Linked DNA regions of Homo sapiens: region 2 is linked to region 1. Evidence: fine-mapped expression QTL. Tissue or cell type: whole blood. Region 1 holds a variant in brackets; the other region holds the start of a gene. All regions are shown on one strand. Distances are between the middles of the regions.

Region 1 (8,100 bases):
TTGAGCCGGAGTCTCGCTCTGCTGCCCAGGCTGGAGTGCAATGGCACGATCTCGACTCATTGCAACCTCTGCCTCCCGTGTTCCAGCGATTCTCCTGCCTCAGCCTCCCGAGTAGCTGGGATTACAGGCGTGTGCCACCGTGCCCAGCTAATTTTTGTATTTTTAGTAGAGATGAGGTTTTGTCATGTTAGCCAGGCTAGAGACTCCATCTCTATTAAAAAACAAACAAAGAAAGGCTGGGTGTGGTGGCTCATGCCTATAATCCCAGCACTTTGGGAGGCCAAAGCGAGCGGATCACCTCAGGTCAGGAGTTTGAGACCAGCCTGACCAACAGGGAGAAACCCCGTCTCTCCTAAAAATACAAAATTAGCCGGGCATGGTGGCGGGTGCCTGTAATCCCAGCTACTCAGGAGGCTGAGGCAGAATTGCTTGAACCCGGGAGGCAGAGGTTGCAGGTTGCAGTGAGCCGAGATCACGCCATCGCACTCCAGCCTGAGCAAAACCCCATCTCAAAAAAAAAAACCAGACAAATATAGCTGGTGGGTTCTTGGGCAAGGCTGGTGACCAGGGCCCTAGGGGAGGATGTTTCCAAGAGCTGCCAAGAGCAGTGGGGCCCGGGTTCTGCCCGCCTCTTCCTCTGACTGTTTCCTCATCTGGGGTCACGGGATAAGTGCAGCTCCGCCTCCCTGGTCATGCAGGTGACTGTGAATGAAAGTGTCTTGGAATCAGAAGGTTCTGGCATGAAAGCTTTGCACCAGCCTTCCACCAGTGTGCTGCCCAGCACGTGACTATCGGAAAAACTTTAGCTTATTTCAGCCTAATTACATTCCGTTAACCCAAAGTCTCTGACGTTCAGGGCTGGATCATTCTCTGGGATGGGGCCATCCTGGTGCACTGCAGGGTGCTGAGTGGCGTCCCTGACCCCCACCCACTCCATGCCAGGAGCATCTCCAGTCGTGACAACCACAGATGTCCCCAGATATCACCCAGAGTCCCCTGGAGGCAAACCTGTCCCACTTAAGAACCGCTGGCCTGGACCAGAAACTGGATCTTTCAGGGAGGCAGAGCTCACCAGCCATCCAGGCACTGAGCCCGGCCCAGCCCTGCAGCTCTGACCCTGCCTTGGGCTGTGAGCTCTGAGGACCCCATCAATCTGATCAAGAAGCCACACTAGGTCACCTCAGACCAAGGACATTCTGCCATGATGCTTCAGACTGTTCTTCTCCCCATCCTCCTCTCCACCTCCAGCCCTCAAAGACCTGGCCTGGGTCCCCTCCCGTGGCTCCCAGACCTCCGCTTCCAGGGAGCCCTCCGGAATGTCCTTCCTCCTGCCTTCAATGCTCCTCCCCATCCTGCAGGGGTTGGCAAGGATGTCCCCTCCTTAGAGACCTTCCTGGACACCACGTGGCACAGACTCTCTCCTCTTGGTGCCACCTCATCCTATTTTGTCTTTTCCTTTTTATTTTTTTTTTTTTTGAGATAGGGTCTTGCTCTGTTGCCCAGGCTGGAGTGCAGTGGTGCAGTCACAGCTCACCGCAACCTCAGCCTCCTGGGCTCAAGTGATCCTCCTACCTCAGCCTCCAGAGCAGCTGGAACTACAGGTGTGCACCACCATGCCCGGCTAATTTTTTAAATGTTTTGTAGAGATACGGTCCTGCTATGTTGCCCAGGCTGGTCTCAAACTCCTGGCCTCAAGTGATCCTCCCACCTCGGCCTCCCAAAGCGCTGAGATTACAGGCGTGACTATTTCCTTATCTTCTAAGACCCTCTGTTTGGTTTGCCAGTGTGTCTGGGCATGTGCTGTCTCTGTGTGACACATGCTCCCTGAGAACAGGACTTGATTCCACCTGTATCAGGCTGGGCCCCCAGCACCTAGGCTGTCCCTGGCACACAGTGAGTGTCGGGTCAATATTTGCGACTGACCGACGGGTTGGCCTTCCATCTACTCTTCCACTCACCAGCTTCTCCATCTTGCCCAAATCCCTGCCAACCCCAGGGCACTGAGGACACAGATTACTCCTCACCCATGCCCCTTGCAAAGCTCTCAGCCACATTTTTCTCTTTTCTACCTGTATGTGTGTGGTGTGTGTGTGTGTGTGTGTGTGTGTGTGTGTATCTCACTCTGTTGCCCAGGCTGGAGTGCAGTGGTGCAACCTCAGCTCACTGCAACCTGCACCTCCCCTGTTCAAGCGATTCTCCTGCCTCAGCCTCCCAAGTAGCTGGGATTACAGGCACGTGCCACCACACCCACCTAATTTTTGTATTTTCAGTGGAGACGGGGTTTCGCCATGTTGTCCAGGCTGGTCTCGAACTCCTGACCTCAAATGATCCACCCGCCTCGGCCTCCCAAAGTGCTGGGATTACAGACGTGAGCCACCGTGCCCAGCCTGTTCTATTTTTTTTTTAATAAACAATTTTATTTGGAGTAATTTTAGATTTACAGGAAAGTTGCAAAGAGAGAGTCCCCGCCCACGCCTCACCAGCTTCCTCTTCAGGGGCCACCCTGTGTAACCACAGGGCATTGCTCACAGCTGGGGAACGCTGGCACCTTCCTAGTAACCAAATGCCACAGCGATTCAGCTTCCCTCAGTTTTCCCCTCACGACCTTTCCTGCCCCATTGTGACCCCATCCAGGAGCCCATGTGGCATCTGACCGTCCCATCTCCGTGGGTTCCTCTGGGCTCTCAGTTTCTTGGTCTTTCTTTGGTATTTCCATGAACTTTTTTGTTTGTCTCTTTAAGAAAACGGTTACTATCCATGAAAAACAAACAAACAAAAAATGTCATTCTGGCTACCCTGAGAGCTTATAATTGCTATTTTAAAATGAATGAATACCTATTTGATTGACATTTTCTCAGTTTTGATTTCAAATTCAACAAATATCCGTAAGTAGAAGGCATATAAACAAAAGCTCCTTGGAATAATCGTCAGGACCAGAGAGTTTGAGAACCTTTGTCCTAAGCCAGGGGTTAGCTAACTACGGCCCCTGGACCACATCTAGCTGACTGTGTGTTTTTGTAAATAAAGTTTTATTGGCACACGGCCACACCCACTTGTTGACATATTGCTTGTGGTGGCTTTCCCGCTACAATGGCAGGCAGAGACTGTCCAGCCTGCAAAGGCTAAAACATTTGCCATCTGGATCTCTGCAGAAAAGTTTGCTACCCCAGGCCTCGCACATAGTAAGTTCATAGCAAGTATTTGTTTATAGTAAGGCTGAGCCCTAATCAGGGTGAAGGGCAAGGTCAGACATCGGAGGACCACTGAAATGTCCATTCTGTCCCACCTGGTACAGCAAACGCCACCATGGAGCAGGACTCAGCCATGAAAAGGAACAAGGCTCTGATGCCGGCCACAGTGTGGATGGACCTTGAGGACATCACACTCTATGAAAGGAGCCAGAGACAGAGGGCCACGCAGTGTGTGATCCCATTTCTACGAAATGTCCAGGACAGGCCCATCCATGGGGACAGGGAGGGGATGCGTGTGTGGCAGGGCTGCCGGGGGGAGATGGGGAGTGACTGCTCATGGGGGACAGGGCTTCTTTTGGGGGTGATAGGATGTTCCGGAATTAGATAAAGGAGATGGTTGCACAACTCTGTGAATGTAAAAACCGCTGAGCTGCACATTTTTAAAGGGTGAGTTTTACGCTGTGTCAGTTATATCTCAATAAAGCTAATCCTAGCATTTTGGGAGGACGAGGGGGGGGCGCGGATCACCTGAGGTCGGGAGTTCAAGACCAGCCTGACCAACATAAAGAAACCCCGTCTCTACTAAAAATACAAAATTAGCCAGGCATGGTGGTGCGCGCCTGTATTCGCAGCTACTTGGGAGGCTGAGGCAGGAGAATTGCTTGAACCCGGGAGGTAGAGGTTGCAGGTTGCAGTGAGCCGAGATCGCGCCATAGCACTCCAGCCTGGGCAACAAGAGCAAAACTCTGTCTCAAAAACAGAAAAGAAAAGAGGAGAGGGGAGGGGAGGGGAGGGGAGGGGAGGGGAGGGGAGAGGAGAGGACCCTGTAGAATGAAAGAAAGGCAGATCCCCCTGCACCCTGGCTACAGGCCGTCGTCCCGACCCCTCTCTCTGCAGGCAGGTCACTGCCCCCCTCACAAACCTCTGTCCTGATCCC[C/G]CAACCCACACACCAGAGCTGGGCCCATGCACCGGGAAACCTGCCACCCCAGGGGCCACTCCAGTCTCAGACCAACAGGATATTAAAAAAGGCGAAACCTCAGAACCGTTTCCTATCGAAACCAATTAGAAAGCTCTTGGGTATGAGTCCAATGTTTTCAAGCAACTAAAGGCAAAAGAGAAGATTTTCAACGAAACATCCCAGCTGGGGGTGAGCTTCTTAGGGTCCTGTCATCGGCCACCCTAGAGGGACCTAGGGGTGAGCTTATGCCGTCAGCACCCCCAGCCAACGTGGGTCGGCCAGTTAGCTGGGCGTGGTGTTGTGCGCCTGTAATCCCAGCTACTTGGGAGGTTGAGGCAGGAGAATTGCTTGAACCCGGGAAGTGGAGGTTGCAGTGAGCCGAAATCGTGCCATTGCACTCTGGCTCCGGGCAACAGAGCAAGACAGCTCTGTGCAGAGAACAGACTCCTGCGGTGGAAATGCTGGCTGCCTTTGAGGCTGGGTTCTGTGACCTTGGGTTTCCCAGCCTGAGCTTCCAGTTTCATTTATAAAAGGGGTGACGTGGCCGCCTTCCTGCAGGCGCTCTGAAGGTGGCAGATTACACAGAGGTGGTACGACTCATACAGGTTTCTGCAAACGGGGGCCCCATCAACAGTCACCTTTCCTTAGCACAGCGCCTTCCTCCTGGGGTGACCTCGCCCCTTCCTGCACACCCCAGGAGCTTCCTGAGACCTGAGTAAAGCTCACTTCCCTTGCAAGGGGTTTAGTGACGTCCCTTCAAAATTCTTGTCCACGGGGAACCTCGGAAAATGACTGTTACGGACTAATTGCATTTGCTTAAAACTTATGTTGAAGCTGGATGTGGTGGTCCACACCTGTGGTCCCAGCTACTCGGGAAGCTGAGGCGGGAGGATTGCTTGAGCCCTAGGATTTCAGGGCTGCAGTGAGCTATGATGCTGCCACTGCACTCCAGCCTGTGCAACACAGCAGCAAGACTCCAGACACAAAAAATTAATTAAAGAAAAATGGCTGGGCACAGTGGCTCACTCCTGTAATCCCAGCACTTTGGGAGGCCGAGGTGGGCAGATCACCTGAGATAAGGAGTTCGAGACCAGCCTGACCAACATGGACAAACCTCATCTCTACTAAAAACACAAAGTTAGCCGGGCGTGTTGGTGCGCGCCTGTAATCCCAGCTACTCGGGAGGCTGAGGCAGGAGAATTGCTTGAACCTGGGAGGCAGAGGTTGCAGTGAGCCAAGATGGCACCACTGCACTCCAGCCTGGGTGACAGAGCAAGACCTCATCTAAAACAAACAAACAAACAAACAAACAAAAACAAAGAAGGAGACACAGAGAGACAGCAGAAAACAGAAGCAGAGACTGGAGCAATTCGACGGTAAGCACAAGCCAGGTTTGCCAGAGCCCCCAGAAGCCAGAGGACGCGGAAGGATCCTCTCCTGTAGCGCCCAGGGGAGCACAGCTCTGCAGACAGCTTGGTTTAGTACTTCTGCCCTCCAGAACCGTGAGAGGACACACGTCTGCGGATTGATACTTCCGGGTCTGTGGTCACCTGTTATGGCAGCCACAAGAGGCTCGTCTGCCCCTTTTCTCTCCCCTTCCTTCATGCTGATCACCACGGAGGAGTGAGTTCGATTCCCTCTGCCTGCCCAAAACCCTCATCAACTTTTTTTTTTTTTCTCTCTCTTTTGAGACGGAGTCTTGCTCTGTCACCCAGGCTGGAGTGCAGTGGCGAGATCTCGGCTCACTGCAAGCTCTGCCTCCCGGGTTCACGCCATTCTCCTGCCTCAGCCTCCTGAGTAGCTGGGACTACAGGCGCCCGCCACCACACCCGGCTAATTTTTTGTATTTTCAGTAGAGACGGGGTTTCACCATGTTAGCCAGGATGGTCTCGATCTCCTGACCTTGTGATCCGCCTGTGTCGGCCTCCCAAAGTGCTGGGATTACAGGCATGAGCCACCGCGCCCGGCTCCTGGTGGTTTTTAAGCTTGCAAAGGGTGCGGGATAAGCCCTGCAGAAGTCAATGGTCAGTAATGAGGGCTGGGGATTCAGCCCATCTCCAGGGAAAGCCCCCGAAACTGGCAACACCAGCTGCTTCCGGGAAGGGGAACCCAATGCGAGCAACGCGGCAGAGAGGGGGCTTCCGGGAAGGGGAACCCAACGCGAGCAACGCGGCAGAGAGGGGGGCTTCCGGGAAGGGGAACCCAACGCGAGCAACGCGGCAGAGAGGGGGGCTTCCGGGAAGGGGAACCCAACGCGAGCAACGCGGCAGATAGGGGGCTTCCGGGAAGGGGAACCCAATGCGAGCAACGCGGCAGAGAGGGAGGCTTCCGGGATGGGGAACCCAATGCGAGCAACGCGGCAGAGAGGGAGGCTTCCGGGATGGGGAACCCAATGCGAGCAACGCGGCAGAGAGGGGGCTTCCGGGAAAGGGAGCTCAATGCGAGAGCAACGTGGCAGAGAGGAGGGCTTTGTTTTCACTTTCACCGTGTATCATTTATACCACTAGAGCTCTGACACCCCGGGCACGGCCACTGATAGAAAACATTGGTCCTTCTTCCTGGGGGTGTGTGGCCAAGTGAGGGTGGGTGAGGGAGAAGCCACTTTCCGGCTAAGGTCCTCAACACCCAGGCTCAGTCTGAGCTCTTCTGTGTCCCAGGAGGCAAAAAGGTGACCACAGGTTGGGCTGTAGTATCAAACCCAGAACAAACGGGGTGTTCCAAGCCTGGGCAACATAGCCAGACCCCATCTCTACAAAAAAATAATTAGCCAGGCGTGGTGGTGCACCTGTAGTCCCAGCTACTTTGGAGGCTGAGATGGGAGGATCGCTTGAGCATGGGCATTTGAGGCTGCAGTGAGCTGTGATCGTGCCACTGCACTCCAGCCTGGGCAACAGAGCAAGACCAGGTCTCAAGAAAACAAATAAACAAGGTGTTCCTTACCCAAAGGAATTGCAAGGAGGGGCTCGGACAGATACTTGTACTGTTCACTCATGTTCACAGCACCCAAAAGGTGGAAGCAATCAATCCAAGCGTCCATCAACAGATGGACAGATAAACAGCATGGTGCATCTGTATGATGGAATATTACTCAGCCATGAAAAGGAAGGGAATCCCAACACAGGCTGCAACACGGATGCACCTTGAGGACGTCACGCTCAGTGAGAGAACCCAGACACAAAAAACCAAATTGGCCAGGTGTGGTGGCTCACGCCTTTAATCCCAGCACTTTGGGAGGCCAAGGCAGGTGGATCACTTGAGGTCAGGAGTTGGAGACCAGCCTGGGCAATGTGGTGAAACCCCATCTCTACTAAAAATACAAAAATTAGCCGGGCATAGTGGCAGGTGCCTGTAATTCCAGCTACTCAGGAGGCTGAAGCAGGAGAATTGCTTGAATCTGGGAGGCGGAGGTTGCAGTGAGCCGAGGTCGCACCGCTGCACTCCAGCCTGGGCCACAGAGCGAGACTGCATCTAAAAGAAAAGGACAAATCTTGTGTGACTGCACGCCTAGGAGGTCCCTAGAGCCGTCAGATTCACAGAGACAGTCCATCTGTTGATGGACGCTTGAGTTGCTTCCACCTTTTGGCTGCTGTGAACATGAGCGAACAGTACAAGGGAAGCAGGATGGGGGGTGCCAAGGGCTGGGAAGGGGACGGGGAGCAAGTGTTTCACGGGGACAGAGATTCAGTCTGGGAAGATGGAAAGTTCTGGAGATGACGGTGGTGATGGGTGCAGCACCATGCAAATGTGCTTAATGCCACTGAACTGAGCCCTTAGAAATGGCTAAGATGGTAAATACTATGTTTCATATATTTTACCACAATTAAAAAAAGAAAGAAAGGGCCGGGCGCGGTGGCTCACGCCTGTAATCCCAGCACTTTGGGAGGCCGAGGTGGAAGGATCACGAGGTCAGGAGATCGAGACCATCCTGGCTAACATGGTGAAACCCCGTCT
Region 2 (8,100 bases), 140 kb before region 1:
TCTGTCACCCAGGCTGGAGTGCAGTAGCGCGATCTCGGTTCACTGCAAGCTCCACCTCCTGGGTTCACACCATTCTCCTGCCTCAGCCTCCTGAGTAGCTGGCACTACAGGCGCCCGCCACCACGCCCGGCTAATTTTTTGTATTTTTAGTAGAGACAGGGTTTCACTGTGTTAGCTGGGATGGTCTCGATCTCCTGACCTCGTGATCTGCCCACCTCAGCCTCCCAAAGTGCTGGGATTACAGGCGTGAGCCACCACACCCGGCCACATTTTTTTTTTAACTCTGAATGAATGCAAAAACCTCTATGCTGGATAAAATTTTAAAAATTTATTTTGTTTAAAGCCAAATACGGTGACTCACGCCTGTAATTCCAACACTTTGGGAGGCCGAGGCAGGCAGATCATTTGAGGTCAGGAGTTCGAGATCAGCCTGGCCAACATGGCAAAACCCTGTCTCTACTAAAAATACAAAAAATTAGCTAGGTGTGGTGGAGGGCGCCTGTAGTCCTAGCTACTTGAGAAGCTGAGGCAGGAGAGTCACTTGAACCCAGGAGGTGGAGGTTGCAGTGAGCTGAGATTGCGCCACTGCACTCCAGTCTGGGTGACAGAGCGAGATTCTGTCTAAAAAAAAAAAAAAAAAAAAAGATTATGACAGGATTACTCATACTGATTATTCCTCTCACCTCAGGCTCCAAGATGGCCTCGGCGACACTGTTATTGATCTCATTTTTTATTTTATTTTATTTTTAGACACAGGGTCTCCCTCTGTTGCCCAGGCTGGAGTGCAGCGACACAATCATAGCTCACTGCAGCCTCAAACTCCCAGGCTCAAGTGATCCTCCCACCTCAGCCTCTCACGTAGCTGGGACTACAGGTGCGCACCACCACGGTCGGCTAATTTTTAAAATTTTTGTAGAGATGGGGTCTCCCTATGTTGCCCAGGCTGGTCTCAAACTCCTGGGCTCAAGCAATCCTCCTGCCTCGGCCTCCAAAAGTGCTGGGATTACAGAGGTGAGTTCTGGCGCCCAGCCCAAAGATAATAGCACACATTTCCTGAGTGCTTACCTGATTCTGGGAATTTCCTCCTTCAATGCCTGTGATGAAGCCTTTGTGTGACTGTTCCCATCTTACAGAGAAAGAAACTGAGGCTGGAGCTCATTTTCTTTTTTTTTTTTTTTTTGAGAAAGAGTCTCACTCTTGTTGTCCAGGCTGGAGTGCAGTGGCACGATCTCGGCTCATTGCAACCTCCACCTCCCGAGTTCAAGCGATTCTCCTGCCTCAGCCTCCTGAGTAGCTGGGACTACAGGCATGCGCCACCATGCCTGGCTAATTTTTATATTTTTAGTAGAGATGGAGTTTCACCATGCTGGCCAGGCTGGTCTTGAACTCCTGACCTCGGGTGATCCACCCGCCTCGGCCTCCCAACATGCTGGGATTACAGGCATGAGCCACCACGCCTGGCCCGGCTGGAGCTCATTTTCTGAGCTCAAAGGCACAGAGCTCAGAGTCTCTTGAAGATATTCCAAGATACTCCAGATATTCTAAGATGCCTGGAGCCAGGGCTGGAAAAAGGAGGCACAGGTGGGCTTGGGGTCTAGAAAGAGAAGCCTGGAGGGTGGAGGACCATGGGGGTCCAGGCAGTCAGTCTGGGAGAAAACAAGGCCAAGTCAGTGTTGACAGAGGAGTAGGGTTTTCCTGCTGAAGACCAGAGGAAGACAGCATCCCAGGCGGAGGAAACAGCTGACAAAGGCTGGGCCTCTCGCAGAGGAGGTTGTTATGGCTGGCACGGGGGACACACGGAAGAAGGACTTGGACACATATTCTCTGAGGCCCTGCTTTGCTCGCCTTATTTTATTTATTTTATTTGCTTTATTTTTGACACAGTGTCTCGCTCTGTCTCCCAGGCTGGAATGCAGTGGTGCAATCTCGGCTCACTGCAACCTCCACCTCCCGGGTTCAAGCGATTCTCCTGCCTCAGCCTCCCGAGTAGCTGGGATTATAGGCATGTGCCACCATGCCCAGGTAATTTTTGTATTTTTTGTAGAGACGGGGTTTCACCATGTTGGCCAGGTTGGTTTTGAACTCCTGACCCCAGATGATCCACCTGCCTCAGCCTCCCAAAGTGCTGGGATTACAGGCATGAGCCACCGTGCCCAGCCCTTATTTTATTTATTTATTTGAGACGGGGTCTCACTCTGTTGCCCAGGCTGGAATGCAACTGTGCAATCCCGGCTCACTGCAGCCAGGAACCCCTGGGCTCAAGTGATCCTCCTGTCTCAGCCTCCGGAGTAGCTGGGTGCACACAACACACCCCATTCTTTCTTTCTTTTTTTTTTTTTTAAAGACTGAGTCTCACTCTGTCACTCAGGCTGGAGTGCAGTGGCACGATCTCGGCTCACTGCAATCTCGGCTTACTGCAACCTCTGCCTCCCAAGTTCAAGCAATTCTCCTGCCTCAGCCCCCAGAGTAGCTGGGATTACAGGCATGTGCCACCACGCCCGACTGATTTTGTATTTTTAGTAGAGATGGGGTTTCTCCAGGTTGGTCAGGCTGGTCTTGAATTCCCAGCCTCAGGTGATCCTCCTGCCTCAGACTCCCCAAGTGCTGGGATTACAGGAGTGAGCTACCGTGCCCGGCCTTTTTGTTTGTTTGTTTGTTTGTTTGTTTGTTTTGGGGAGGATGGAGTCTCTCTCTGTCACCATGCCATGTGCAGTGGCATGATCTCGGCTCACTGCAACCTCCACCTCCTGGGTTCAAGTGATACTCCTGCCTCAGCCTCCTGAGTAAGCTGGGATTACAGGCGCGTGCCACCACGCCCAGCTAATTTTTGTGTTTTTAGTAGAGACAGGGTTTCACCATGTTGGTCAGGCTGGTCTCGAACTGACCTCACGATCTGCCCGCCTCAGCCTCCTAATGTGCTGGGATTACCCAGCCTGCAATACTTTTTAAAAATCAAAATCAATGCCCAAGTATCCATGAGGAACAAAATATCAAAATTGTAAATAAAGACAGAATCTGACTTTGCACTTATCCCACCCACCTCCCTGATCTTCCTTATCTTCAGCTCATGTTGGCCATGTTGGTCAGGTTGGTCTCGAACTCCTGACCTCAGTTGATCCGCCCGCCTCGGACTCCCAAAGTGCTGGGATTACAGGCGTAAGCCACCGCGCCCGGCCGATTTAACTTTTAAATTGAAATTATAAAATATAAATATGTATGTTGCATGCGTAAAACATTGCATAAAGTTACATAAAACGTTGCAACCGCCACGGTCCCCTTATCCCCCGCCTCCAGCCCAGTGCCCCGCCCGTCCGTCCCTCTCTTCCGGCGCTGAGGGCGCAGAAACTCGGCGCGGCCACCAGATGGCGCCACCGCGCCTCGCAGCCCCGGGACATTTCGTGCCCCAGCGGTGGGCGGCGCGGAGGAGGTGGGATGCGTCAGCCGGACCCGCGGGCCGGGGAGCCGGGCAACTGGGGAAAGTGAGCCGCCGGGCGGAGGCCAGACCCCAGGCTGGCGGGGGAGGGGACTCAGATGTGAGTCACCCGGGAGCCCCCAGTCGACCGTGGGAGACGTTGTCATGCGGGGCCTGCCAGCCTCGCTCCTGAACAGCCTTCCCGGGGCGGCGGAGTCCTGCAGGCGGCCGTGCCTGGCGCACACGCGTGGCTCCAACACGAACTAGCCTATGGCCTCACCAAGCCTCAGTTTCCCCTTTTGCATAATGCACATAAGCATCCCCCCTGCTTCCCAGGTCTTGGATTAAATCATCCATGAATCCGGAGGGGTGGGGGGTACCAGGTCCGCACCACGCACTCAATGCAGGTCAGCGCCCACCCCGGAGTGAGAAATAAAAGTAGCCGTCATCCTTGCACGTGGGCCCTGGGTGGCGGCGTGCAGCCGGAGCCTGCACCATTCCCCTCAACAATGGCTTTCTCCAGGGCCTGGAGGCCTCCGCACGGGCAAAGGCTGGAACGCCAGGCAGCCGGCGGGGGCGGGGCCGCGCCACCTGCACCTCCCACGCGCACCCCACCCTGATACTCGCGGGGTCGGCGAGGAGGCGCCCACTTTCTTCTCCAGAGCGCCCCGGGCTTTGCAACCTCCCACTTTCGGGGCCCTCGAGGAGGCCTCCCGCGACCACCAGGTGACAGCTGATGTGTATTGGGCTCTTACTGTCAGCCGTATTTTATGCCATGCTCTGCAAACCAGCGAGGCCGGCGCTGCAGACCCATTACTCAGACGGGAACAGAGAGGCCGGGAGAAGCGAAATCACCCAGGGGCTGGGGTCGTCGCAGCCAGGAGAGACTCCGGCCCTCACCACCACCTGGGCGAGATCACGCTGCAAACGGGGCCCCTTCCCGGTGCAGCCCCTCCACCCCCAGCAGAACTTGGGAAAGGCGCGGTCCGGGACTCTCCGCGGATCGGGAGGGGATTCCAGGCCCCCCCGAAAGTCCGGGCCGCCTCGCGCGCTGGAAATCCCGCGCGCGCCCCGAACCGCGGCTCGGCTGCCGGGAAATCAGGAGAAAAAAACTTCTGCTTTTTTTTCTTTTCTGGCATTCGCGGTCACCTACCCGGCCCCCGCGCGCCCTCCTCCCGGTTCTCGCCCCCACGTGGGGCGCCCCCGCACGCCGCTCCTCCCCCTCCCCTCCGTCGGCCAACCGCAGAGCTAGCTGCACTCGCCCTTGTCTTTCCACCAATAGGAGGGGCGAATGACTCCACTGAGGCCACGCCCAATGTTCAAGTCTATAAAAGTCGGTGCCGGAGGCTCCCAGCTCAGATCGCCGAAGCGTCGGACTACCGTTGGTTTCCGCAACTTCCTGGATTATCCTCGCCAAGGACTTTGCAATATATTTTTCCGCCTTTTCTGGAAGGATTTCGCTGCTTCCCGAAGGTCTTGGACGAGCGCTCTAGCTCTGTGGGAAGGTTTTGGGCTCTCTGGCTCGGATTTTGCAATTTCTCCCTGGGGACTGCCGTGGAGCCGCATCCACTGTGGATTATAATTGCAACATGACGCTGGAAGAGCTCGTGGCGTGCGACAACGCGGCGCAGAAGTAAGTAGCCGGGGCTGCCGCCGCCTGAGGTCAGCCGGGACGGGATGGGTCGGGTTGGGCCGGGCCGGGAGCGGAACGTAGCACCCGGTGGTCCGCCCGTCACTGATCCCTCTTTCCTGGTCTCAGGATGCAGACGGTGACCGCCGCGGTGGAGGAGCTTTTGGTGGCCGCTCAGCGCCAGGATCGCCTCACAGTGGGGGTGTACGAGTCGGCCAAGTTGATGAATGTGTGAGTCAGACCCCCTTCCCGGGCTGGGCGCGGGTGGGACGGGACCTCCCCTCCGCTCTGGACGCTTTCCGCACGCTTGTCTTGCATGGAGCTGGGACTTCCCCAAGTGCCCCCCGCTGTGGATGCAGAGCTTCTCTGCCGTTTTGTGGATCGGGGGCTGCCGTATCCTGATGTATCGTCTGCAAACACCCCTCCCGCCGTGGGCCTGTCTCCCCCTACCCCATACTTTGAACCGTGTGCCCTCCCCTCCCCCCACCGTCACCAGCTTGCAGAGGCAATCCCCTGCACCCTTGCAGTTTCTCTTTTGCTCTTGCACGCTCCTTTTTTGCAAACTCCCCCTGCACGGTGGCCCCTCCCCTGTCCCCGGCTGACCCATCCCTACCCTTTGGCCCCCTCAGGGACCCAGACAGCGTGGTCCTCTGCCTCTTGGCCATTGACGAGGAGGAGGAGGATGACATCGCCCTGCAAATCCACTTCACGCTCATCCAGTCCTTCTGCTGTGACAACGACATCAACATCGTGCGGGTGTCGGGCATGCAGCGCCTGGCGCAGCTCCTGGGAGAGCCGGCCGAGACCCAGGGCACCACCGAGGCCCGAGACCTGCATTGTCTCCTGGTCACGGTGAGTCGGGCCTCTGCCCTGCCCCGCCACGCCCGGGCACCTGGGCCGGTGTTTGTCAACAAAGTCGGGCTGACTGGTCCTGCACAGCTCAGCGCTCAGCCACGTTTGGCATGTCCCGTGGGCAGCCGGGCTGGGGCCTCCTCACCCAGGAAGCTATTTTGAGCCTGACTGTTTTCCCCACACAGGGGCCCCGGGAGAGGGAGGCTCCACTAAACCCCTTCTTTTCCCTCCTACAGAACCCTCACACGGACGCCTGGAAGAGCCACGGCTTGGTGGAGGTGGCCAGCTACTGCGAAGAAAGCCGGGGCAACAACCAGTGGGTCCCCTACATCTCTCTTCAGGAACGCTGAGGCCCTTCCCAGCAGCAGAATCTGTTGAGTTGCTGCCACAAACAAAAAATACAATAAATATTTGAACCCCCTCCCCCCCAGCACAACCCCCCCAAAACAACCCAACCCACGAGGACCATCGGGGGCAGAGTCGTTGGAGACTGAAGAGGAAGAGGAGGAGGAGAAGGGGAGTGAGCGGCCGCCCCCAGGGCGGAGATCCAGGAGCTGGCGGCCGCCGATCCGATGGAGAAGGGGGGACCCAGGCCAGCAGGAGACAGGACCCCCGAAGCTGAGGCCTTGGGATGGAGCAGAAGCCGGAGTGGCGGGGCACGCTGCCGCCTTCCCCATCACGGAGGGTCCAGACTGTCCACTCGGGGGTGGAGTGAGACTGACTGCAAGCCCCACCCTCCTTGAGACTGGAGCTGGCGTCTGCATACGAGAGACTTGGTTGAACTTGGTTGGTCCTTGTCTGCACCCTCGACAAGACCACACTTTGGGACTTGGGAGCTGGGGCTGAAGTTGCTCTGTACCCATGAACTCCCAGTTTGCGAATTATAGAGACAATCTATTTTGTTACTTGCACTTGTTATTCGAACCACTGAGAGCGAGATGGGAAGCATAGATATCTATATTTTTATTTCTACTATGAGGGCCTTGTAATAAATTTCTAAAGCCTCTGGTTGCTTGTATGTTTTCGGCTTCTAGAACAACTAGGACCCCTGCCCCCTCCCCGGGGACACGCTTCACCCCCCACAACCCCCGCCAGCTCACCAGGAAGTGTTACTTAAGCCCCTGTTAGCAGCTCCAGGCTCCCGTGCAGAAACAGTACCCCTTCTCTCCGCAGCAGGCGCCGCCACCGACTCCAACAAATCTATGCCTCTTTTTTTTTTTCCTTCTCCTCCTACCCTGCAGCAATTAAGAGACCGGTTTATTACGAAACCTGGCCGCCGTGCCACCACTGTTACTGGCTGTGCAGGAGCCAACCCCAAGCTCTGGGCACATATGGAGGCATTTCAGCGGGAGGGGGTGCTGGCTGCAGCCCCTGACCGCCTAGGCGGCCACCGCAGCCCAAGGTCCGGATCGGTCAAGGGGGCACCTGGTACCACACAGCGAGGTGAGCTCAGGGCTTGCAAGGAAGAGCGCTTTTGGAGGCTTCCCCAGGGAGTGCCCCCCCAGCCCACCACAGCCTTCTCCATCCCAGGATAGGCCTCTCTTTTGCACTAAAGAAAAAAACTTTTTTTATTTCCGCAAACTAAAATCAACAAGCAGAAAAATACCCCAGGAAGTCGGCCTCCGGGCCAGCCGGGCTTGGCGCAGTGCTGCGTTTTGCCTGTAAACCGAAACTGCGAGCCCTGGCCAGCCACCTCCTACTTCTCCCAAAGTTGCAGGCGCGGTGGTGACTCCCCCTGCCCCGGGCTGGGAGCGTGGCCCAGCCCTTCCGTGCCCGGCCTCAGTCTTCCCGCCCCGGGTCTGCAGAGTGGGCCCGCCCTGGCCAGGCGCCGGGACGACCTCGGTTCCCCTCTGCCCTGCAGCCCCCAAGCCTGGGAACTAGGGGGGAGTGGGGAGGGGGTGGGGTGGTCCTGCCCGCAGGCCGCGACCTTTCCACGGAGCCTCACGTGGGCGCATGAGGAAAACCCCAGCGGCTCCCTAGGAGTCACGGGGATCGGGGGAGCCCCGACGGGGGAGGGAGAGAGAGAAGGAGGGGGAAGTCCCAGAGGGAGAAGCGGGGAGGGGAGAGGATCCCGCCTGGGGCTAGGAGGAGGGGAGAACTGAAGTGGGGAGAGGGGAGCCCAAGAAGGGGAAGGGGAATCCCCCACAGCCCTGAACCAACAGGGAAACCCCGGGAGGGGGGTAGACAGGTAGGAGTCCCGAAGGGG

Evidence for each region. PIP is the estimated chance that this variant, and not a neighbour inherited with it, causes the effect.
Region 2: it holds the start of GADD45B, and the variant in region 1 is fine-mapped to the expression of GADD45B in whole blood (TOPMed, PIP above 0.99).

The regions. Positions count from the first base shown.
Region 1 is chr19:2,616,261-2,624,360 of GRCh38, forward strand. All of the region lies in intron 2 of GNG7 (G protein subunit gamma 7), which reads right to left. Among named protein-coding and RNA genes, the nearest start is that of MIR7850, 10 kb to the right of the region's middle. RefSeq lists enhancers at 2,911-3,205, 4,538-4,837, 5,717-5,916. The variant C/G (reference allele first, on the strand shown) is at 4,129.
Region 2 is chr19:2,471,358-2,479,457 of GRCh38, forward strand. GADD45B (growth arrest and DNA damage inducible beta) reads left to right here and starts at 4,770. Exons shown (of 4, transcript NM_015675.4): 1 at 4,770-5,045; 2 at 5,172-5,273; 3 at 5,672-5,894; 4 at 6,131-6,900. The coding sequence starts at 5,002. The coding sequence ends at 6,244. RefSeq lists silencers at 3,411-3,550, 3,921-4,030, 7,591-8,100 and enhancers at 4,771-4,840, 4,842-5,429, 5,411-5,500, 5,430-6,019, 5,661-5,770 and 6 more.